2 separate regions of the Homo sapiens genome follow, and region 2 is linked to region 1. The links come from fine-mapping of genetic effects on gene expression. A gene starts in region 1. The other region holds a variant in brackets. All regions are shown on one strand. Distances are from middle to middle. Region 1 holds the start of RTEL1-TNFRSF6B (RTEL1-TNFRSF6B readthrough (NMD candidate)). Region 2 overlaps RTEL1 (regulator of telomere elongation helicase 1).

Evidence for each region. PIP is the estimated chance that this variant, and not a neighbour inherited with it, causes the effect.
Region 2: its variant is fine-mapped to the expression of RTEL1-TNFRSF6B in monocytes after Pam3CSK4 (Quach 2016, PIP 0.95).

The regions. Positions count from the first base shown.
Region 1 is chr20:63,649,924-63,661,733 of GRCh38, reverse strand. It overlaps RTEL1-TNFRSF6B (RTEL1-TNFRSF6B readthrough (NMD candidate)), which reads right to left and starts at 3,924. Exons shown (of 38, transcript NR_037882.1): 1 at 3,268-3,924; 2 at 2,230-2,501; 3 at 238-436. It overlaps RTEL1 (regulator of telomere elongation helicase 1), which reads right to left and starts at 3,422. Exons shown (of 35, transcript NM_001283009.2): 1 at 3,268-3,422; 2 at 2,230-2,501; 3 at 238-436. The coding sequence starts at 2,331. It overlaps STMN3 (stathmin 3), which reads left to right and starts at 8,310. Exons shown (of 5, transcript NM_015894.4): 1 at 8,310-8,407. The coding sequence starts at 8,389. RefSeq lists enhancers at 2,798-2,847, 2,998-3,067, 3,188-3,347, 3,368-3,457, 3,488-3,727 and 3 more and silencers at 8,473-8,522, 8,543-8,632.
Region 2 is chr20:63,681,902-63,691,946 of GRCh38, reverse strand. RTEL1 (regulator of telomere elongation helicase 1) reads right to left here. Exons shown (of 35, transcript NM_001283009.2): 15 at 6,350-6,424; 16 at 6,075-6,156; 17 at 4,177-4,309; 18 at 3,897-4,010; 19 at 3,768-3,808; 20 at 3,561-3,646; 21 at 3,342-3,419; 22 at 2,815-2,892; 23 at 2,299-2,445; 24 at 2,082-2,197; 25 at 1,737-1,860; 26 at 1,506-1,653; 27 at 1,000-1,142; 28 at 110-205. It overlaps RTEL1-TNFRSF6B (RTEL1-TNFRSF6B readthrough (NMD candidate)), which reads right to left. Exons shown (of 38, transcript NR_037882.1): 15 at 6,350-6,424; 16 at 6,075-6,156; 17 at 4,177-4,309; 18 at 3,897-4,010; 19 at 3,768-3,808; 20 at 3,561-3,646; 21 at 3,342-3,419; 22 at 2,815-2,892; 23 at 2,299-2,445; 24 at 2,082-2,197; 25 at 1,737-1,860; 26 at 1,506-1,653; 27 at 1,000-1,142; 28 at 110-205. Among named protein-coding and RNA genes, the nearest start is that of TNFRSF6B, 9.7 kb to the left of the region's middle. RefSeq lists a cis regulatory region at 2,626 and enhancers at 2,554-2,698, 7,784-8,508, 9,235-9,959. The variant A/CA (reference allele first, on the strand shown) is at 4,987.

The sequences.
Region 1 (11,810 bases):
AGATACTGGTTTATCAAAAATGGGTGAAGTGGGCATCTGCCGTGCCCTAATTCAGCAAAAAAGCCCAACCCTAGGTTTACACCCACGATGGCGAGAAATTATACAGCAGCTAAAAAATTCTCCTTGAGTTCTGCTTGAGAGACGGCAGGAGTCCCCATGGGCCCACCCCACCCTCAGCGCCATCCCTTGCCAACCATCCCCACAGGAGGCCAGGAGAGGCCTGGGAACTAGGGTCACCTATGGGGTCTCCAGCAGCAGCAGCAGCGTTGCCCCAGGATGACAAGGCCCGATCCGGGAAAAGCTCTCCTTGCGCCCTCTCGGCAATCTTGCGGGCAGAGATGCCGTCTCGGAGGTGTTCTCGCCAGGCCAGCGTGGTGCACAGCAGGCACAGCGTCTTCCCTGTACCCGTAGGGCTCTCCAGGATGCCATTCACCTTCTGAACGGAGTTCGGAGCAAGGGTTACGGGGAAGCCAGGAAGAGGCGAGGCCACACAAGCTGCCCTGAGACAAGCTTCGGCAGCCAGCGGGCAGCTCTTTGCAGATGCAGAGGCCACTGCCAGGTGGCGAGAGCCCTGTGGGACCGCGGAGAAGTCCACAGGCAAGTCCCACTCTTGCCCTAAAGGGCGTGAAGCAACTCAGCCGCCATTAGCAAACGATTTGCAGAACGTTACCCAAAACACGACACTATTTTTCAGCTTAAATAGTAAGATGACTAATTAGGTGTCAAGTCTCAAAATAGGAAACTGTTCTGCGTTTCTGGATCCAAACATTTATGCTGTCCTATCTGACGTCCTACATACAAGCTCTCAGACGGGAACCTGAGCAGGAAACTCGGGGAGGGGAAGGGTGTGAGCCGGGTACAAGAGGGCACCTCAAGGAACCCAGGAGAAGGCAACCTGCACCACTGCCACCTCCCTGCACCCCCGAGGTTCAAAGACCTTCCAAGTGAGGCTGGCCACCGGCTGCCCCTCTAATGGAAATGCTTCCTCCTGACCCGTGAATATCAGCTGCTCCTCAGAGAGGCCCCCAAGGCACTCCTAAGTCTGTCACCCTCAAGGACTGTAGGGAAAAGAGAGATCAGACTGTTACTGTGTCTATGTAGAAAGGGAAGACATAACACACTCCATTTTGACCTGTACCCTGAACAATTGCTTTGCCCTAAGATGCTGTTAATCTGTAACTTTGCCCCAGCCTTGAGCTCACAGAAACATGTGTTGTATGGAATCAAGGTTTAAGGGATCTAGAGCTGTGCAGAACGTGCCTTGTTAACAATATGTTTACAGGCAGTATGCTTGGTAAAAGTCATCGCCATTCTCCAGTCTCGATAAACCAGGGGCACGATGCACTGCGGAAAGCCGCAGGGACCTCTGCCCTGGAAAGCCGGGTATTGCCCAAGGTTTCTCTCCATGTGATAGTCTGAAATATGGCCTCGTGGGATGGGAAAGACCTGACAGTCCCCCAGCCCAACACCCGTGAAGGGTCTGTGCTGAGGATTAGTAAAAGAGGAAAGCCTCTTGCAGTCGAGATAGAGGAAGGCCACTGTCTCCTGCCTGCCCCTGGGAACTGAATGTTTCGGTATAAAACCCGATTGTACATTTGTTCAATTCTGAGATAGGAGAAAAGCCGCCCTGTGGCAGGAGGCGAGACATATTGGCAGCAATGCTGCTCTGTTACTCTTTACTCCACCGAGATGTTTGGGTGGAGAAAAGCATAAAACTAGCCTACGTGCACATCCAGGCATAGTACCTTCCCTTGAACTTATTTGTGACCCAGATTCCTTTGCTCACGTTTTCTTGCTGACCTTCTCCCCACTATCACCTTGCTGTCCTGCCGCATTCCTCTTGCTGAGATAGTGAAAATAGTAATTAATGAATACTGAGGAAACTCAGAGACTGGTGCCGGTGCAGGTCCTCTGTATGCTGAGCGCCGGTCCCCTGGGCCCACTTTTCTCTCTATACTTTGTCTCTGTGTCTTATTCATTTTCTCAGTCTCTCGTCCCGCCTGATGAGAAATACCCACAGGTGTGGAGGGGCCGGCCCCCTTCAAAGGACGATCGTTTTTACTTGTCAATCCTCTCTCTGACCCCACCTGGAACACCAGCCCTTTTTATGACAGACGCTGCCTCTGGCCCGGAGGGGCCTGGCTGGAATGGGCCGGGAGAGGGAAGCACACCCCGTCCTGGCTGAAGCTCCACCCACCCGCAGTCCTTTCCTCGGGGCCTGTGCTCTACCTGCTGCAGACATTCCAGGACCTTGGTCATGTACTCCTGTTGGCATTTGTAGGGCTGGAAAGGGAAGTCTACGGTCACACCATTCAGGACTATCTTGGGCATATCAGCCTGTTCTCAGAAGGGCACAGAGCGTGGCTGAGGGGCAGGCTATTCGGGTCTGTGCGAAAAAACCACTCCGAACATCTTAGGGTCTCGGGCACTCCTGGTAAGCGATGCGAGCATGTGCACTGGGACACAACGCTGTTCTCTTCGAGAATCCCTATGGCACAGACCTGGGAAAGACAGTAAGACTCTGTTTGTAGACAGCCTTTGTGGGTACCGGGCTACTTTCCCAGGCGTTTCCATCAGTCCCTCCTGCGGAGAGGGTTGGAGAGCAACCCTGGTATATCCCATCTCGAGGAGCTGGCGGGGCGAAGATGCGAAGTGGCTGGGCCTTGCCTTATCCTCCCGCCCCACAACTCCGTCCTTCTCTGGAAAAGACGCCCACAGTGCTGCAAGTTCCGCCTGCAGTAATTCCGCGACTTCCACAAGAGCGTGAGGGCTGAAGAGGCAAGCGGCACCCCTCCCGGCCTCACCAGGCGCAACGTCAGAGCGGAGGGTCTGAACCTCCGGCCCTGCCTCTCCAGCCCTCTGCCCTCCTGGCTGGCTGGAGTCCATTCCCCATCCGCCCGGGTGGGCAACCAGATGCAGCCAAAGTAGCGAAAGAGCATGCCGGGATGCCAACCCGTGCAGCCCTCAGCAAATCACTCAACTTCTCTAAGCCTCAATCCCGCCCGGGAACTGGGACTAACAGAACAGACGCGGACACACTGAATGTCGGCCCTTCCCTCCAGCCCCGGTCAAGGGCTCAGCCAACGCCGCGGCGCCAGCGCCACGAGCGCAGGAAACTACAGGTCCCAAAATGCAGCGCGGCCAATCCGCCGACCCGCGGCCCCGAGGGCGGCTTGGGGCCTGCCGGGAGCTGTAGTTTCGAAAAACCGCAACGCGCCTACGAGCCGCTCGGGTAAAAGAACCACTTGTAGGGTCACTGCGACTCACTGCTCACTTGTCTCCGCGGCGAACCTTCCAGAACCGGGGTCCCTCAGGAACTCAACCGACTCCAGTCGAGGGCCGCCACCCGTCCCCAGCTGTCAGCCAGCTCAGAGTTTTCGCGGGCAGAGGCGCGCAGTCGGCGCTGAGCCCACTGCACTTCCGCCCCCCACTTCCGGTCCGTTGCTTTGTGCTCCCGGCGGAAACTGTTCCCCCGCGGAGGGGGTCCGCCTGCTCTTCGGCTCCTCCAGGCCTACACGGCGTTTTGCGCGTTCTGTGTCCGGCTCCGCTGGCCAGTGAACCTCACTTCCATCGCCCACAGGCAGAAATCTGGGGTCCCGCCCGTCTCCTCCCTTGATGTCATTCCCCCACCAGGGTCTGCGTTCCACTACCGCCTCTCTAGGCCGAGCCACCACCATTGCCCGGAGAGCTGCACGGGCCTCCTCCCCAGAGGCATCTTTTTACTGCTCGAGTGTGAGCCGACCGCTTTCCTGAAAATTTGAAAACGGCTGCGCCTTGCCCAGGACCCGGCTCCTGAGAGCCCTGACCGCCCCCTCTCCTTCCTCTCCTGCGTTCCAGCTTCTGCTCGGCTCACTGTCCCGCAGTGGTCCCGGCGGGCCTCCCTGAGTCCCCAGCACCCGGCACTGGCTGGCAGCAGGGCTGACTCCAAGAGCGAGGCCCGCACCGTTCTGTGGGGTCAGCCCAGCGTCACGGATGTTTGTCTCAGGCGGCCCCAGCTCCCATGCCCCAGAAGGCCCCAGAAGGCCCCAGGAGGGAGTTGGCGCTGCGTGACCGCGCACGGCCGGCAGGCAGCACTTCTTCGTGGCTTCTTCATGGCTGTGTTTAATGTCCACTGACGGCACATGCGAATGCCATGCGTGCCCACGCTCCTGGGTGTGAGATAGTGCTCGGAGAAGCCCCAGCACTCACTGGCACCCAGCCCCATGTGCCTGTTGTGGTGAAGGAACTGCAGGCTGCCTATCTGAGACTCGGCAGGGAGTTGAAGATGAGGAGACCAGCCACACACACTCGTTGAATGAATGGGCACCAAGCACAAGTTTCAGTGCCCCCCATACATGCTGATATGGTTCGGCTCTGTGTCTCCACCCAAGTCTCACCTCGAATTGTAATCCCCACGTGTGGAGGGAGGGACCTGGAGGGAGGTGGTTGGATCATGCGGTCAGTTTCCTCCAGGCTGTTCTGACAGTGAGTGCTCAGGAGACCCGATGGTTTAAAAGTGGCAGTTTCCCCTTCTCTCTCTCTTTCTCCTGCCGCCATGTACGACCTGGGAACTGGGACTAACATAGACTTCACCTTCTGCCATGATTCTTTTTTCTTTGAGACAGAGTTTTGGCTTTTTGCCCAGGCTGGAGTGCAGTGGCACAATCTTGGCTCACTGCAACCTCCACCTCCTGGGTTCAAGTGATTCTCCTGCCTCAGCCTCTCAAGTAGCTGGGATTACAGGTGTGCACCACTAAGCCCGGCTAATTTTTTATATTTTTAGTAGAGATGGAGTTTGACCGTGTTGGCCAGGCAGGTCTTGAACTCCTGACCTCAGGTGATCCACCCGCCTCGGCCTCCCAAAGTGCTGGGATTACAGGCGTGAGCCACCGCGCCCAGCCAGATAAGTCCTCTCATTGTCCACACTTTCTGGGTGAGAAAGTGAGGCACAGAGCGTTGAGCAGATTGCCCAGAGCCTGCTCAGGAGCCAGGAGTTTACCTTTTGCAGCCACACATCTCATCTCCTGAGAGCAGTGGCCAGAAAAGGCTGTCCTGTGGACTGAGCTGAAGTCTGAGTCATCTGCTCCTTGCCAGCTGCTATAGGAGCGTGCTGGCCTGGGGTGGTCAGGAACTCCTGTACCCCTGCCCTCTTCCTCTAATTGCTGACGTACCCACAGCTCCAGCATACAGCAGGTGCTTGACAGATGTCTGTTGAATGACTGAGTGTCCTGCTGAGATATAGGGCTCCTTCTAGGAGCCAGAGTTAATTTCTTTCTTTCTTTTTTTTTTTTGAGACAGAGTCTTGCTCTGTCGCCCAGGCTGGAATAGAGTGGTGCGATCTCGGCTCCCTGCAACCTCCACCTCCTGGGTTCAAGCGATTCTCCTGCCTCAGCCTCCTGAGTAGCTGGGATTACAGGTGCATGCCACCACGCCCGGCTAATTTTTGTATTTTTAGTAGAGATGGGGTTTCATCATGTTGGTCAGGCTGGTCTTGAACTCCTGACCTCGTGATCTGCCCACCTCAGCCTCCCAAAGTGTTAAGATTACAGGTGTGGGCCACCACGCCCAGCCAAGCCAGAGTTAATTTCAAGAATGCAGAGGTCTGATAAAAGTCACACTTTATGAAAAACATTTTTTTTTTTGAGGTGGAGTCTTGATATTGTTGCCCAGGCTGGAGTGCAGTGGTGGGATCTCGGCTCACTGCAACCTCTGCCTCCTGGATTCAAGTGATTCTCCTGCTTCAGCCTCCAAAGTAGCTGAGATTACAGGCACCTGCCACCACACCTGGCTAATTTTTGTATTTTTAGGGTAGATGGGGTTTCACCATGTTGGCCAGGCTGGTCTCAAACTCCTGACCTCAGGTGATCTGCCCACCTCGGCCCCCCAAAGTGTTGGGATTACAGTTGTGAGCCACTGCACCCAGTCAAAACATTTTTTTAACTAGCACTAATGTGCATGTGAAAAACATCTTTGAAATGCTCGTGCACTTTCTGCATTTGATCTTGGTGAGAAGTCAAAATCTGCTCCAAGACCTGGCACTATATTGGGGCAAACAGTCAGTACAGCTATTGTGTGCCTGCCAGCATGCTGTCATTACTCCTATTGCGTGTGCCTGCCAGTGCACTGAGAGTCAGTACACCTATGGCATGTGCCTGCTAGTGTGCTGTCAGTACAGCTGTTGTGTATGCCTGCTAGCACGCTGACAGTCAGTATGGCTGACAGTCAGTACCCCATTGCGTGTGCCTGCCTAGGTGCTGACAGTCAGTACCCCTGTTGTGTGTTCCTGCTAGTGCACACTGTGCACATCTACTGTGTTCCTGGCACTATGCCACGGGCTTCCACACACCTGGTCCCTGTGCTCCAGATGAGGACACAGAGGCTCAGAGAGGGCCTGGCCAGAGTCACAATGAGTGTGAGGCATTGCGGTGCTCTGAGCCTGACTGGGTGGGTCCTACCCCACCCACATGAGAAGACTCTGGAGGTCCCAGAGAGGGCTACTTCTCTTGATCCCTAGCACCTGAGCTCCAGCACCCGGGGCTGGAGTCTGCCTGAAGGATGCTGACCATCCCCAACTGCTACTGTGGTGGCCAACAGGGAGGACACAGCTGCTGTGGTGGGCAGCTCTGTGTGCCTCTCTGCCCTTCTTCCTCCTTCGCAGAGCTGGCTTCCTAGGAATGGCCCAGGGGCCAACACCTCTGTGTGTATATTAGTTTGATATGGCTTCATAGCAAATCACCACAAAACCAACAGCTTAAAACAACTCTCATTCATTACCTCCTAATTCTTAGTAACCCAAGGCTGAAACCAAGTGGGCAGTTGGGCTCAGTTCTTGTGTGGAGGCCCTGGGGTCAAACCTGCCTCCAAGCCCATTCTCTTCTTGTTGGCAGAACTCACTTCCTTGCAGTTAAGGTCTTGTTGTCTTGCTGGCTGTTGGCTGGGAGCAGTTCTCAGATCCTTGCCACGTGGCCCCCTCATCTCAACAACAGAAAACCTTCTTTGGTTTGATCCCTCCGATTTCTTCAACCAGGCAAAGGAAACTGCTTTTAAAGGGCTCCTGTGATGAGGTCAGGGCCCGCCTGGTGATCCTCCAGTCTTAAGGGTACCTCTGGGCCACACAATGTCACATTCCTGGGCATCACCCCCACCAGACTCACAGTCCCGGGGATGATGCCGGCTTGCACGTCAGGGGTCAGGACTCTCCAGGCCACCCTAGGATGTGACTGGCCTTGGGTGCTCCCACCGCACTGCTAGAGCTGAGGCTTGCCCCTGGCTTTTGTGTTGCTGAGCCAGCCTCATGGCTCTGCAAGTCTCCTGAGGTTTTCAGGGTTTTGCTCCTGGCCCTATGACTTAGTTGCTTGTAGGGCAAAGCACTTTTCTCCCTGCCTCGGTGGCTTCATCCCTGCAATGGCAAAGACGCTCCGTTTGCCTACCAGGCTTTCCCTTTGGGAGTTATGAGGAGAGGGGGAGGCAGGATAGGTTGCCCCCCACTCACTAAGTGCGCACAACCCTGGCACCCCTCCTCTCCATCGTCTGGGGGCATCATTGTTTCATCTTACCCCTGAGAAACAAAGGCCCAGCGAGGTCAGACGCTTGCCCTTGGCCTGGGCCACACAGTGAGTGAAGGTCTGAGCCCAGGCGGGAAACCACCTCTTTCACGGCAAAGCCTTTGTTCTGGCCTCACTCCTCCACTTTCACTCTTCTCCGCTCAGATCCTGCCCATCCCCTGGGCTCACAGGAGATGCCCCTTGGAGGCCTCCAGGCCAGCGCCCACCCCTGTGGCTGTGGCATCCTCTCCGATGGCAGGCACAGACCTGGACCCTGTTGGCGCCAGCCCAGCCTACAGCGGCCTTGGCGGCGAAGAGCTCTGCGGCCCCACCCCATGGGTGGGACCTGCTCCTCCGGCATTGCCCCTGCCCCGCCTGCCCTGGGGAATGGGGGCTCATCTCCACCCCCACCCCACTCTCAGGCCTCACAAAGCCAAGTTGGAGAAGCAGCTGTCCCGCTGTGAGCGGTTGGAGGGTGGGGGGTCTTGTTGCAGTTCGGGTAGCCCCCCTCCTCCGCCCTCTCCCCCTGAGAGCCGCGGCCCCTTCCGCAGCCAGGCGCTTGCTCCTCTCTCTCTTCCTCCCTCCCTTCCTCCCTCCCTCCTTCCCCCGCCCCCGCAGTCTCTCTCTCTCTCTCTCTCCTTCCCCCAACCCTCCCTCCCTCCTCCCCCCGCTCCTTCCCCCAACCCTCTCTCTCTCTCCCTCTGTCTCCCTCCCTCTCTCTCTCCCGCCGCGCCCGCCTCCCGCCCGCCCTCGCTCCCTCCACTCCTCTCCCCTCCCCTCCCCGGCACTGCAGCACCAGCCGTCTGCAGCTCCGGCCGCCACTTGCGCCTCTCCAGCCTCCGCAGGCCCAACCGCCGCCAGCACCATGGCCAGCACCATTTCCGGTAGGCTCCGGGGCCACGGGCTTTGTGGGGCGGCGGGATCTGAGCAGAGGCCTCGTCTGGCCTCGCCTGGGGCAGCGGCCGGCAGCGGACGCCAATTTCCCTTCTCCTACCCTGCGCGTTGCAAGCCTGGGCCCGACCCGCCCGAGGCTGGGGTCTGCGGCGCCGGCGGGGCTGGTGGGGCGCTGGGCTGCGAGGCGCCGCGCCGGGGAGCGCTCGGGACCGGGACGTCGGGCGGGGGCGCCTCGCCCCTGGGGGAGCAGCGTGCCACGCAGGGCGCGACTGCCGCAGGGTGGCTCCCAGACCCGGGCGTGGGCTCGCGACCGGGTGGGCGCGCTCGCGATGTGCGGGCGGGGTCCCTGGGGCGTCCGGCGACCCGAGATCTGGGTCCGCCAGAGCCTTCGTGGGGAGGCGGGGAGAGGGTGGGACCCTCTGCCAAAGCCCCAGCCGGGAACCCGGCGCTCCCCGCGCCAGTGCAGCACAGGGGCTGGAGGGGGCGCTGAAGGAGGGGGGCGGGCCAGACACGGCGGAGCCCGGAGTGAGGGGGACCGCGCCCTCCCCCCACACCGCTGCGGCCTCGGGGACCACCCTTTGCGACGCCCGCGCCACCTGCTCTGGCCAGAAAAGCCACTGCCCTTTGCGCCGCGGGGTCTGGATGGGGGAGGGGCGACTGCGATCCCCAAACCCTCCGGAGACCAGAGGGCTCCGCCCCTCCCGCCCCTCCACCTCCCGCGGGGCGGACCCACCGCCTTCGAAGGTAGCGCCCACCCCGGCCTCCCGGCCCGTCCCGCGCGGAGCTCAGGCGGAGGGGCGGGCGCAGGCCCGGGCGGGGGGCGGATTCTGGACGCAGGGGAGCTGCCGGGCGACCTCGGGCGCGAGGACGCTGGGCCCGCCCTTCCCGAAACGCTCTGCTCCGCCGCGAGGCCGCAGAACCCGCTTCGTTTTTCACTCGACGTTTGGGAGGACAGGACGAAGGGCCGCACCTCCTTCCCATCGCCGCCCCCGTTCACGAGCCGCACTCCCTCCCACCTTTTCTTACGCCCCCGGGACAGGTCGCCGCGGTCCCTCTCCCGAGCTGACTGGTTCAACTCGGGCGCCTTGGCCCGGGGCGCAGAACTCCGCCCACCCACGCGTGCCCGACCTGACCCCGCCCCTCAGGCCCCACGGGCTTGGAGGCTCCAGGTGACTTCAGCACCTGCCAGGAGGGGACCGTGTGTGTCACCGGCCACACCTCCCCACCCTATCTGGGAGTCCTGTCCATCTGCGCTTCCTCCCTCCGCCTCCTCCTGGACACCCCCGGGGATACTGGGGGTGGGGGGGCTCTCAGCGGAGGGGACTCCCCTCCTGCCCCTGAGGGCAGCGCCGTCCTCTCCAGGGCCGCCTCCTGCCCTTCCTGACAGCCTTTCCCTGACGGTCCCTCCCCATGGGCTCGGTTCCTGGGGCTGAGCTGGGAGGGCGAGGGCATCTCGGCATCTGGGCACTGGCTCCTCGCTCTTTTGTGGCCTCTGCTCACATTCTCCTTCTGCAACCCAGAGTCTGACCTCCTCCAGCTGTGTGGTGTTGTCCGAGCTGCCTAACCTCTCAGGACCTGGGTCTCCTTATCTGGGTAGAGATGACGGTGCTGGCACCTCTCCTGGGGCTTGTTCTGAGGCCTCAATATTTCAGGAAAGGTGCTTGGCCGCTTGCCTGCTAAGAGATGAGTGCTCACCGCACGTCAAGCAGCCTGACTGTGGTAGCCACATTTCTGAGTTTCCTGCCCAGGGAAAGGCAAATCGGCTGGTGGCTCCTGCCATGCTGTGCTCCTGGCACCATGAGAAGCAGCCTGGGTGACAGTGACCTCCATCTGCCCCCGGGGGGAGCCGGCAGCAGCCTCCAGGGCCCTCCAGGGGTCAGAGGCCACTGTGGTCCCCTGGCCTCTCAGTTCTGGACAGATCCCCCACCTCCGCGAGCTCCCAACAGGAGCCTGCAGTCAGGCCCAGGCTCATGACTGGGCTCTCACCCGGCACTCTGTGTGATGCTGGGTGGAATGCTTGCCCTCTCTGAGCCTTCATTCCTCCTCTGTAGAAGTGAGGCAGATAGGGTGGCTCATGCCTGTAATCCCAGCACTTTGAGAGGCTGAGGCCGGTGGATAAACTGAGGTCAAGAGTTCGAGACTAGCCTGGCCAACATGGTGAAATCCCCCCTCTCTGCTAAAAGTACAAAATTAGCCAGGTGTGGTGACACACTCCTGTGATCCCAGCAATCTGGGAGACTGAGGCAGGATAATTGCTTGACCCGGGGAGAGGGAGGTTGCAGTGAGCTGAGATTGTGCCATTGCACTCCAGCCTGGGCAGCAAGAGTAGAAACTCTTTCTAAAAAAAAAAAAAAAGAAGAAAGAAGAGGAGGAAGACGAAGAAGACGAAAGAGAAGGAGAAGGAGAGCTGATAAGGGCATCCACCCGGGTGGGCGGGAGGGGTGGGTGTGAGGTGTGACCCTGGGAGTGGGCACCATCCACCTGGGCGGCGGGAGGGGTGGGCGTGAGGTGTGACCCTGGGAGTGGGCACCATCCACCTGGACGGCGGGAGGGGTGGGCGTGAGGTGTGACCCTGGGAGCGGGCACCATCCACCCGGGCGGGCGGGAGGGGTGGGCGTGAGGTGTGACCCTGGGAGCGGGCACCATCCACCCGGGTGGGCGTCAGGTGTGACCCTGGGAGCGGGCACCATCCACCCGGGTGGGTGGGAGGGGCGGGCGTGAGGTGTGACCCTGGGAGTGGGCACCATCCACCTGGGCGACGGGAGGGGTGGGCGTGAGGTGTGACCCTGGGAGTGGGCACCATCCACCTGGACGGCGGGAGGGGTGGGCGTGAGGTGTGACCCTGGGAGTGGGCACCATCCACCTGGACGGCGGGAGGGGTGGGCGTGAGGTGTGACCCTGGGAGCGGGCACTACTATACCCTGCTGCTTGAGGCCAACCTGGTGCCTTTTTCTGACTCCTGCTCATGAATCATCCAAAGGCCAATCCGCATTTCCTCGGTATCTAATGTTTAGTACAAAGAGAAGCAGGGAGACAAAACAAGCCCAGCTCACTGCGAGAATTGTTTTTAACTCCCTGAAGTCAGTGAAGGGGAAGGATGGTGGGGAGGGGGCGGTGAGAAAGAAGGGAGTCAAAGAGAGGGAGGGGCCGGGCGCGGGGGCTCACGCCTGTAATCCCAGCACTGCGGGGGGCCAGGCGCGGGGGCTCACGCCTGTCATCCCAGCACTTTGGGAGGCTGAGGTGGGCAGATCACCGGAGGTCAGGAGTTCAAGACCAGCCTGGCCAACATGGTGAAACCTCATCTCTACTAAAAATACAGAAAATTAGCTGGGCATGGTGGCATGTGCCTGTAATTCTAGCTACTTGGGAGGCTGAGGCAGGAGAATCACTTGA
Region 2 (10,045 bases), 31 kb before region 1:
GGGTGGATTCCCTGGTCCCATCGGGACCAGCCGTGGCTGGGGGCACCCACGGCTGCGTTCCCATGCGTGTCTATGGTGGTCGGCACAGGTGCAGGGACAGCTCACGCACCGGGTGGCTGACCAGCCGGATCTTCTTCCTCCCTCCTCGCGGTTCTTCTGCCGGCCTCTTCTCAGACAGGAGGGACAGGGTGGAGCAGCTGTGGGCCTGAGGAGGACACAGCTCACAACCACACACAGACCCCAACCACACACTCTGGGGTCCCAAAGCACCTGGACGCACAGGGAAGATGGTCCCAAGGAGCCCTGAGCCAAGATGGAGGTCGGGGGAGGGGGGCACAGCACACCCCGGTGACAGTGCCACAACTTGGTCCTGTCCAAGTCACACCAGCGGCTCATGAGGCTCGCAGGTGGTGACTTGTAAGAGCAGGTCCAGGGAAGACAGTCCGACCACAGCGAGGGGCTGGCAGGAAGGGGACACAGGTGCCTGGTGCCTGCACCTGGAGCTCACTCCAGGGGCCTGAAGGGCAGGGATGGGCAGGAAGAGGGGAATGGCTCCCAGCAGGAAGCAGGGAGAAAATTTCGGGTTGGCCTGAGGAATTATGGGCTTCTGGGGCAAAAGGCCCCAAGGAAGAAGGAACCTGGGTTCCACCCGCAGCACATTCCTGGAGAAAGGCCAGCCTCAAGCGCAGCCAGTGGCAGGGGCACCCGACCTTGAGTGCACTGAGCCAAGCTGACCCGCCAGAGAACCAAAGTGATGTGGGGGGCACCCGCGGAGGGCCAGGGCATGCACCACCTGGGAGCCAGCAGCCTGTGGGTGAGGTGGGGTGGAGGACCCACAGACAGCCAGGCAGCTGGGATCCCCCGCCCGCTTGCCCGCCTGCCTGCCAGGCAGGGGATTTACAGGGGTGTGTGGGGAGGTGCCTGAGGCCAGATGGGCGGGGTCGGGTTGGCCTCAGGAGACAGAGGGTCTGTGTCCATCCCAAGGCCCTGGAACTGTACCTGCTCCTCGCCAGGGCTCCCCGCCCGCTGTTCGCTGTGCTCCAGGGCGGCCAGCAGCCCCCTGGGCCTCTGCCGGGCAGGAACTGGCTCCTGCTCATACTCCACACACAGGCTACTCTCGGGGTCCCCGGCAGCTGGTGACCCTGCAGGGGCACCCGAGTGCGCAGTGAAGCCCACGGGGGGCCCCAGCTGGGGTCCCTGCCTGTGGCAAAGCCCCTCTTGGGGGAGAGTCCCAGCACTTGGGGTCCTGCCTGTGGGTGTCCTCCCTGCTATTGGGGGGAGTCTCAGCCTCGGGGGGCATCCTTGCCTGGGGCGTTCTCTGCCTGTAGGGGAGGGTTGCAGCCCGTGGGGGCCCTGCCCTAGGAGGGAGAGGCAGCCTTTGGAGGTGGGAGGGGAAGCGCACAAAGCCAGGTGAGTCGCCTCCGCCCTGGGCGCCTGGTGCTGCCCGCCCCACGCCGCCCGCTCCGCCACCCCCACACCGCCCACCCAGCGCTGCCCGTCCGCACCTGAGGACCTCTGCTTCAGGCTGGGGACATGCAGGTCCAGACTCTTAGCTTTCCTGGTGGAGAAGAAGGGGCCAGGCGACTTGGCCTCGCTGACAGCATCTTCTCCACGCACACTGGGTGCTGTAGCCCGGGGGGCCGGCGCTGGCATCTGCAGAACCATGGGGGTGGGTGGACCCATTTCTGGCTCCTCTGGGGACAACACCCTCATCCCCTCCCTGGGCAGGAACTCACAGTTCGCTCGGCAACACGGAAGAACTGGGCCACGTCTCGGATGACATGGCCAAAGTTGTCATACACCCTGACGTGGGGACGCACCCAGGAGGGCAGTTGGGCTCTTGCGTCGGCAAAGGCGAACCTGGGGGGTGGCCATAGCCCTGCTGCCCTGCCCACAGCCGCTTCAAGGGTTCAGTTCACCGAAGTGAAGACCCTCATCTGCTGCAGGGGCCCCACGCTGACCCCGAGTAGCCGGAGAGGCTCTGGAGGAGACGGGGCCTCATGTGGGGAAGGAGAGTCCAGGGGCCCAGTGGGGTGTGGGCGTGTCCCCTGGCGCCGCGCCTGCCACCGGACTGCACGCACCTGTGGTCACAGAGGAAGACAGCTCCGTAGTCCTGGCGGTGCCGGATCACTCGCCCGATGGCCTGGTTCACAGCCCTGGACGCCTGCTGCCGGTACCACTCCTGCCCAGAGAGGAACTGTGGGGCGAGGCGGCTCGGTCACGGGGGCTCCCTTGGCCACGGGGCGGGGGCTCAGTCACCAGACCGCCTTACCCCAGCCCCACCCTGCTGTAACTCACCTGGCCCCCAGCCCCACCCTGGCCCTTCATCTCATCCAGGAACTGCATCTTGAGGACAACCCGGGGGTCCATGCGTGGGGGGTACGGGAGGCCCGTGACAATCACACCACGGCCATTCGTGTCTGAGAAGTCCAGCCCCTCGCTGGCCTAGGGGACACACCAGGGAGCTGCCTGGGGCCGTGGGGGCTCCTCTCCCTGGTGCCCACACCCAGCCCAGCCACCTTCCCCGAGGCTCCGTCCCCAACCAGGGGTGGGAGGAAGCTCCATCTGTGGGTCAGGACCCCACTTGGGGTCCACAGCTCCCAGACGCCACCTCCAACTCTTGTGGCCAGGAAACTCCCATCCTGCCTGCCCAGGCCCAGAGCAGGACACGCTCCCAGCAGGGCCAGCAGTCGCTCTCGTGGGACCCAAGGAGGGGACCGGGCAGCCCCCAGGGCCCAGAGTCTGCTGGGGAGCCATAAGCACCCACCAGGGAACAGGCAACCAGGTCAGGGCAGAGGGCCCTGGAGAGCTCACCTTGCCCCGGCAGACCGCCAGGAAGGTGGCGCCGGTGGACCCAGGGGCGGCAACCCTTGCATAGTAAGCACTGATGGTCTGGAAGGAAAGTTGGTGAGGCTGAGCCTGGAGCCCCCCCCCAGCCCCTTCCTCCCCCATGAGGGAGACCCAGGTCTCATGCTCCAAGATGAAGGATCGTCCTAGCCAGGAAGGCCAATCGGGTTCTGGAAGCTTCTTCCTGGCACGGATCCCAGGCTGACCCCACGCCTGCTCAGTGCTTCCCAGAAAACACGGGGAACCCCAGGGCCAGGGTGGCCGACTAGGGCTACTCAGACAGGAGGGCCACTGTTACCACACCCACCCGGTGCTGGGGGCTTTGTAAGATAAGAGGCAACACTCAGGGCCAGGAAGGAAACGCAGGAGCCCTGAAGAGGCAGCGGGAGCCGCCGGAGCCCATGGTCAGGGCCAGTGGTCAGCCTTGGGGAAGCTGTGAGAGGCAGGGGAGGCACGAGGGGGCAGCAGGCCCAGAGCCCCGGCCAAGTGCCGACCTCGGAGAAGCTGCCTTTGCTCCTGGGCTCCACAAACAGCGGCTTCAGCGCCTCCATCTTCCTGGCCAAGTCGCGGGCCTGTGGGAGGAAGAGGCAGGGACACGGCAGCCCTGGTCACGCCGCCGATCCGATGAGGGCAAGCAGGAGCTGTGACCACTGCCTGCTTCATGCTCCAGCCCTGCCCTCACCCACCCCGCCCAGAACACAGGGGAGACGCACCCGCCAGAACTCCAGGCTCTTCTCCATGACAGGATAGGAAGGGAAGAAGATCAGGAGCCCATAGGGCACCACGCGGGCGATGTTGCCTGGAAGTGCAGGGGCCGGGGTCAAGGCAGGGGCAGGATGTCTGCAGGGTTCCCTACCAGCTCTTGGGAGCAGGGGTCCAGGATCCAGGATGGGCACAGCTGGGGCATTCAGGGCACTCACCCAGAGCCTTCCCCAGGGAGGATAAGCACTCCTCGGAAAACCTAGAGCCGGAGAGGCCACTGCTCAGGACCTCAGGCCTCAGTGCTCCCCCACCTCCCACCCCAGCAGGGCCCAGGGACAGGCCCTCACCGTCTGTCAAACGCGGAGCTCAACTGGGCTCCATCGGGGCCTCTGGGGACGACCCCCACCCAGATCTGGTGCTTGTCGATGATGTGTGGGTTCTCCAGGCAGACTGGGAAAGGGCTGAGCGTGGCCAGAGGGAGCAGACAGTGGGGAAGTGCACCAGCACCCCTTTAGCCCTCGAGGCCCGAGACCCCCAGCACCCGGCTCATGGGGACCCCCACCACTTCCACCCCGCTGATGTCAGAGGTGTCACCGGTGCTCAGGCCCTGGCAGGGGTGGCCCGTACATCTGCATCTCCAGAGCAAAGGAGGACACCGGGGCCAGCGTGCCGCTGGTAAGGATGAGGGAGCGGACGCCCTGGCGGACCAGCTCGTGCATGCTGTGGCCGGGACTGAAGCACCAGTAGCTCAGCACCTTCCCTGTGGGGCGGGGGGCGGCAGAGGGCACAGAGTGTGAGGACGGGACTGGGGGCCTGACCACCTGCCTCTCTGCCCATCACCCTCTCCACCCACTGGCATCAAGCAAGCGAGCCGCGGGCAGCCACCCAGGCCCACTGTGCAGAAGTCAGAACAAAGGAGGCTGCCCTGAGTGTGAGCCTGCCAGCTTGGGGCCCCTCTGGGGGACAGGGGGTCCTGGGAGTAGGAGGCAGACCCCAGGCAGAGGCTGGGGACACCTGCAGAGAGGTCAGCCCACTCCAACCCTAAACTTCTGCAGAAACTGTGACATGCGGCTCAGGGCAAGAAGCCCACCCCGCCAAGAGCACACGGGAAGGAAGCGCCGGCATCCCGACATTCCACGGCCGCGTGCAGAAGACGGGGTGCGAGTTCCCAGCTCTGCCTGGAAGCAGGACACGTGCACAAGCCTCTGAGTGGCGTCAGCAGTGAACAAGGGCGCCAGCTCAAAGGAAGTTCCTAGAAGGGCTTGACCGACTGGCCACGGCGGCCGTGGCCTGGGGAGGAGGCTGAGTCTGGATGCCGGATGCCGGGAATTCAACACGGCACAAGCAGAACGACTCTGACTGCGATTCGGAGTCAGCAGGGACGAGGCACGTTTCCTTCCTGGGGCTGAGTGTGCCCTGCAATGGGGGAACTTCCCC[A/CA]CCCCCTCCTCCAGGAGCTCATTTCCTACAAACGCCCAGTGCAGGGAGTGGCTGCTTCTGAGAAGTCAAGTGACATCAGAGGTCAATGGAACAAACAGATTCCAGGCCCTTGGAATCTGTGCACCGGCTGCCTCAGGCACGCACTGCCTCCCGCAACCCCAACTGCGTGAGGGGCGCCGGCCTCCCCCCGGGATGGACGCTTCCTGCTGGGAGAGGCCTTGCTGCAGGACCATCACCGAGCGGGGGTCAAGCCACGCCACCCTGACGCCCTCCCAGCCCTTCCCTTCCGGCTCGGCCAGGCAGACCCAACCACAGCAACCGCACAAGGGCTGCTTCAGCCAGGGCCACGTCATGCCACCATGGGTCGGACAGCAGCTGAGAAAGAATGTTCCAGAGAGGGACGAACCAAGCCCAGAGGCAAGGCCCCACTGGAGCACAAGGCAGGGGCAGCAGCTCCCGCAGCTGCAGCCGTGAAGCCCCACCCTGGACACCACGCAGTGGGGGTGGGGCCAGATACACCCCAAGAACCACAGGGCTCCGGACACGGAGCCGAGGGCACACTCACAGACCCCATCCACACAGCGTCCCCGGCAGCACCGACTCGAAGACGCCACGGAGCACAGGAAGCCAAGAAGGCACGTGGGGCCTCGGGGCTGAGCGCACCAGGGGCTTCGGACAACAGGGCCAGCCGGGCCCCCTTCAGATGTGACCCTGAGGCTTGGCCCGGCCAGGCGCTGCGTGGAGGCAGCAGGCAGAGCCGTGCCTCACTGTGGAGGCTCTGTGCTGACGGCCTCGGCATAAACGAGCGTGTCCCAGCAGGGAGGCCTGGCTGGGCTGTGGCTCTGCCACCACCAACCAGGTGACTCTGGGCAGGTCACGGTGCCATCAGGCCATCTCCTACGTCTCTCAGTAACTCCAATCTTCAGAGGGACAGTGAGGAGAATGCTCTGGATTGGCCTGGATATGGAGAAGGTGGCCAGGCCCATGGGGGCAGGAGATCCACGGCTGGGCATGTGCCTAGCCTGTGGCATGGTGGTGCCGGGCACTGCACCCGGGCGGGCGGGGAGCGTGTGGGCCCAGGTCTGTACCTCGCTTTCTGGCTGCAGTGGTGCTCCAGGCATCAGACCGCTGAGCCGTCCTCCGGTGACCAGCATCAGGATGGATGTGCACCTGGAGGGGACAGGACCAGGAGTGTGGAGGCCCCGCCCATGTCCTGGGGGCAGCCCCTTACCTTTTAGGACCAGAAGACCCCCAGCCCCACCTGCCTCCTGGAGGTGGCCCCCACCTTATAGGACTGTAAGGCCCCCAGCCCTGCCGGGGAACAAGGGCTGCCCTCCACCTGCCTCCTGGAGGTGGCCCCTACCTTATAGGACTGTAAGGCCCCCAGCCCTGCTGGGGAACCAGGGCTGCCCTCGGAGGGGTCCACACTGAACACAATCTGAAAGGCAGAGGAAGTGCAGCCCCGTCAGGAGCCTGAGGCCACCCGACTTTCTGCAGCATCAGCCGCATACACAGAAGGTCACAGGACACCCAGGGGTCATCGGTTCACCGGCCCCTGCCATCATGCAGCCCCAGGCCAATGGACAGGAGCTGGCACCTGCCTGACCCTTTCTCCTCCCTGCAGGGACCCCCGGTGAGCTCTGTGTTCCCCCAACATAGGCCATCTCCATGCACTGAAAATGCGGCAGCCCGAGGGGCCTCTCCTCCCGCCAACTGGCCCAGCCCTCCTCTCTGTGCCCCTGAGGGCCCCAAATTAATCTAGAAATTCAACATGGCCTAGTGCAGTGGCTCAGGCCTGTAATCCCAGCACTCCGGGAGGCTGAGAGGAGCAAACTGCCCGAACCCAGGAGTTCGAGACCAGCCTGGGCAACATGGTGCAACCCCAGGGTGTTCACCAAAAAAAAAAAAAAAAAAACCTAGCCGGGCATGGTGGCATGTGCCTGTGGTCCCAGCTACTTGGGAGGTTGAGCTGAGAGGATCCCCTGAGCCCAGGAGGTTGAGGCTGCAGTGAGCTGTGATGGTCCCACTGCACTCCAGCCTGGGCAACAGAGAGACCCTGACTCAAAAAAAAAACAGGAATTCAACACATTCTAGTCAAAATCACAGTAAGATTTTTACAGGAAGTAGACACGCTGACTCCAAGATGCACTATGGAAAAAACGTCAGGGCAGGTTTCAAAAGAACAAGAGGCCGGGCGTGGTGGCTCACACCCGTAATCCCAGCACTCTGGGAGGCCAAGGTGAGAGGATCACCTGAGGTCAGGAGTTCGAGACCAGCCTGGCCAACATGGCAAAACCCCATTTCTACTAAAAATATCAGGCTGGGCACGGTGGCTCATGCCTGTAATCCCAGCACTTTGGGAGGCGGATCACGAGGTCAGGAGATCGAGACCATCCTGGCTAACACGGTGAAACCTCGTCTCTACTAAAAATACAAAAAATTAGCCAGGCGTGGTGGCAGGTGCCTATAATCCCAGGTATTTGGGAGGCTGAGGCAGGAGAATGGCGTGAACCCGGGAGGCGGAGCTTGCAGTGAGCCGAGATCGCGCCACTGCACTCCAGCCTGGGCAACAAGAGCAAAACTCTGTCTCAAAAACAAACAAAAAGAAATTGGTTCAGGCCAACACCAGGACTTACGACAAAACCACAGTGAACAAAAACATGAGGAAAAGTGTGGCAGGTGCCCAGTGGAGTTGGGGGAAGCCGAGCCGCTCGGTCAGCGCACAGAACCACCGGTGTGGCGTGCTGGGAAAAATCAAGGTAGAGTCTGCCTTTCACACCCCCACAGGTGACGTCAGAAGGCATGGAGGCCCAGACACAAAGCTCCGTCACTCTACAGTGCAGTTTGGAGAATACACAAGACCCGGTTTAGCATCTTGGTCGGGAGGCACAAGCTCAGAACAAAAATCTGACAAGGAAACATGTGTTCACCAAACCTGTCATGAAAATGGAAAAAATGACCAGCATGAGACAAGGAAAGAATATGTATGTCGGCATGGGATCCTCAGAACTTAGAGAGAGAATATGTATATGGGATCCTCAGAACTTAGAGAGAGAATATGTATATGGGATCCTCAGAACTTACAGAGAGTATATGTATATGGGATCCTCAGAACTTACAGAGAACCCTGCAAATCAATGGGAAAGGAATGATGCCTGCACTAGGAGAGGAGCGCGTGACGACCGTTCCTGGAAAACGAGCCAAAAACGGCCAGAACAGGAACGCAAAGCCCCCAACAGGCTCAGCAATGTGGCCATGTCAGCCAAGCCACCGCCGTCAGAGCCCCGCCGCAGACTTGAGGGAGTTCTGCTGGGAACACCAAGAAGCCGGAATCATTCACAGAAATGCGGAGAAGCCGAACTAGAGAACACCGGGGGGCAGACACCACGGCTGGAACACAGAGACTTGGCAACATGCGTGGATTTGTGCAGGCGTGCGTGCGTGTGTGCGTACTCTGCATGCATGTGCACGTGCCTGGGTACGCACAGAAGGAGAGAGAAATTTCCTTCCGTTCCTTCCTTCCTTCCCAGCCATTTTCACTGTCAAGACAGCTAAACACAGGGCCTTGTGTTTTACCAAAGCATTTGGCCCACGGGGATGGAAGTAACAGAACAAGTTCACCCCCACGCTGGTGGCTGCCATGAGCAGGGCTGAGTCTGCCTCAGGAAACAGCTTCCTTCGAAAAGCCTTCTGCTGGGCAGGCATGGAAGCTCTTGCCTGTAATCCCAGCACTTTGGGAGGCCAAGGCGGGCAGACTGCCTGAGCCCAGGAGTTTGAGACCAGCCTGGGAAACATGGCAAGACCTCATCTCTACAAAAAAATTTTAAAAATTAGCTGAGTGCGGTGGTGCACACCTGTGTTCACAGCTCCTCGGGTGGCTGAGGCAAGAGGATCACTTGGGCCCAGGAGGTTGAGGCTGCAGTGAGCTGTGATCAAGCCCCTGCACTCCAGCCGGGGTGACAAAGCGAGACCCTTTCTCAAAAAAACACCACCACAAATCCCCCTGTGCCTCAGCCCAGGGCAGCTCCGGCCTCAGGCAGAGAGGGATGAGGACCCAGCAGTCTCACGGGGGCCCAGGGGCAACTGGTTCCCCAACACGGGCCAGCACTGCCCAGAGTTTGCCTCCAGCTAAGCCCTGACTTCCGAGCACACGGCCTGACCCTGCCTGGAGTTCGCCTCCAGCTGAGCTGTGCATCCCACATCCTCTTCCTGGGGCCACTGGCCCCACTCTGCCCCCAGGGTCACCTGTGACTCAGGGCTGCAGGCCCAACCCAGCACCAGCCCTATGGGCACCGCCCACACCTGCAGGGGCTCAGGAGCCAACGCGGGTGAGCACTGTGTGCAGTCCCTCATCCTCCAGGCACCCGAGGGCTGGCAGAAGCTGAGTCATCCACCAGCGGCTACTTAGAGCAGCAGCCAAAGGAAATTCCAAACCGATGGAGTGTGCAGGATTCGGTTCCAGAGTGTGGAGTCTTCTCCTTAAGTGGGGGCCTGGGAGGCCACGTTCCAGGATCCGGTTCCAGAGTGTGGAGACTTCTCCTTAAGTGGGAGGCTGGGAGGCCGCGTTCCAGGATCCGGTTCCAGAGTGTGGAGTCTTCTCCATAGCTGGGGGCCTGGGAGGCCGCGTTCCAGGATTCGGTTCCAGAGTGTGGAGTCTTCTCCATAGCTGGGGGCCTGGGAGGCCGCGTTCCAGGATTCGGTTCCAGAGTGTGGAGTCTTCTCCATAGCTGGAAGCCTTGGAAGCCGCATTCCAGGATTCAGTTCGAGTGTAGGAACCTCAGAAGCCACATTCTAGGATTCAGTTCCATAGTGTGGAGGAGACTTCTCCATAAGTGGGAGCCTGGGAAGCTGTATTCCAGGGAGGGACAGGCCCGGGCCAGCTCACACCTGCCCTCCAGGCCCTGGGCTGCAGGGCTACCTCGCCTGGCCATGTGCTGGAGGTGCTTTGCAGTGACCCATCAGGGACATGGAAGCAGGTCCGCCTGATAGGTGCACGGCCTCCTGCTTGAAGAGCCAACCACACTCCATGCGGGACAGCACAGCAGCCCTTGGCAGGCAG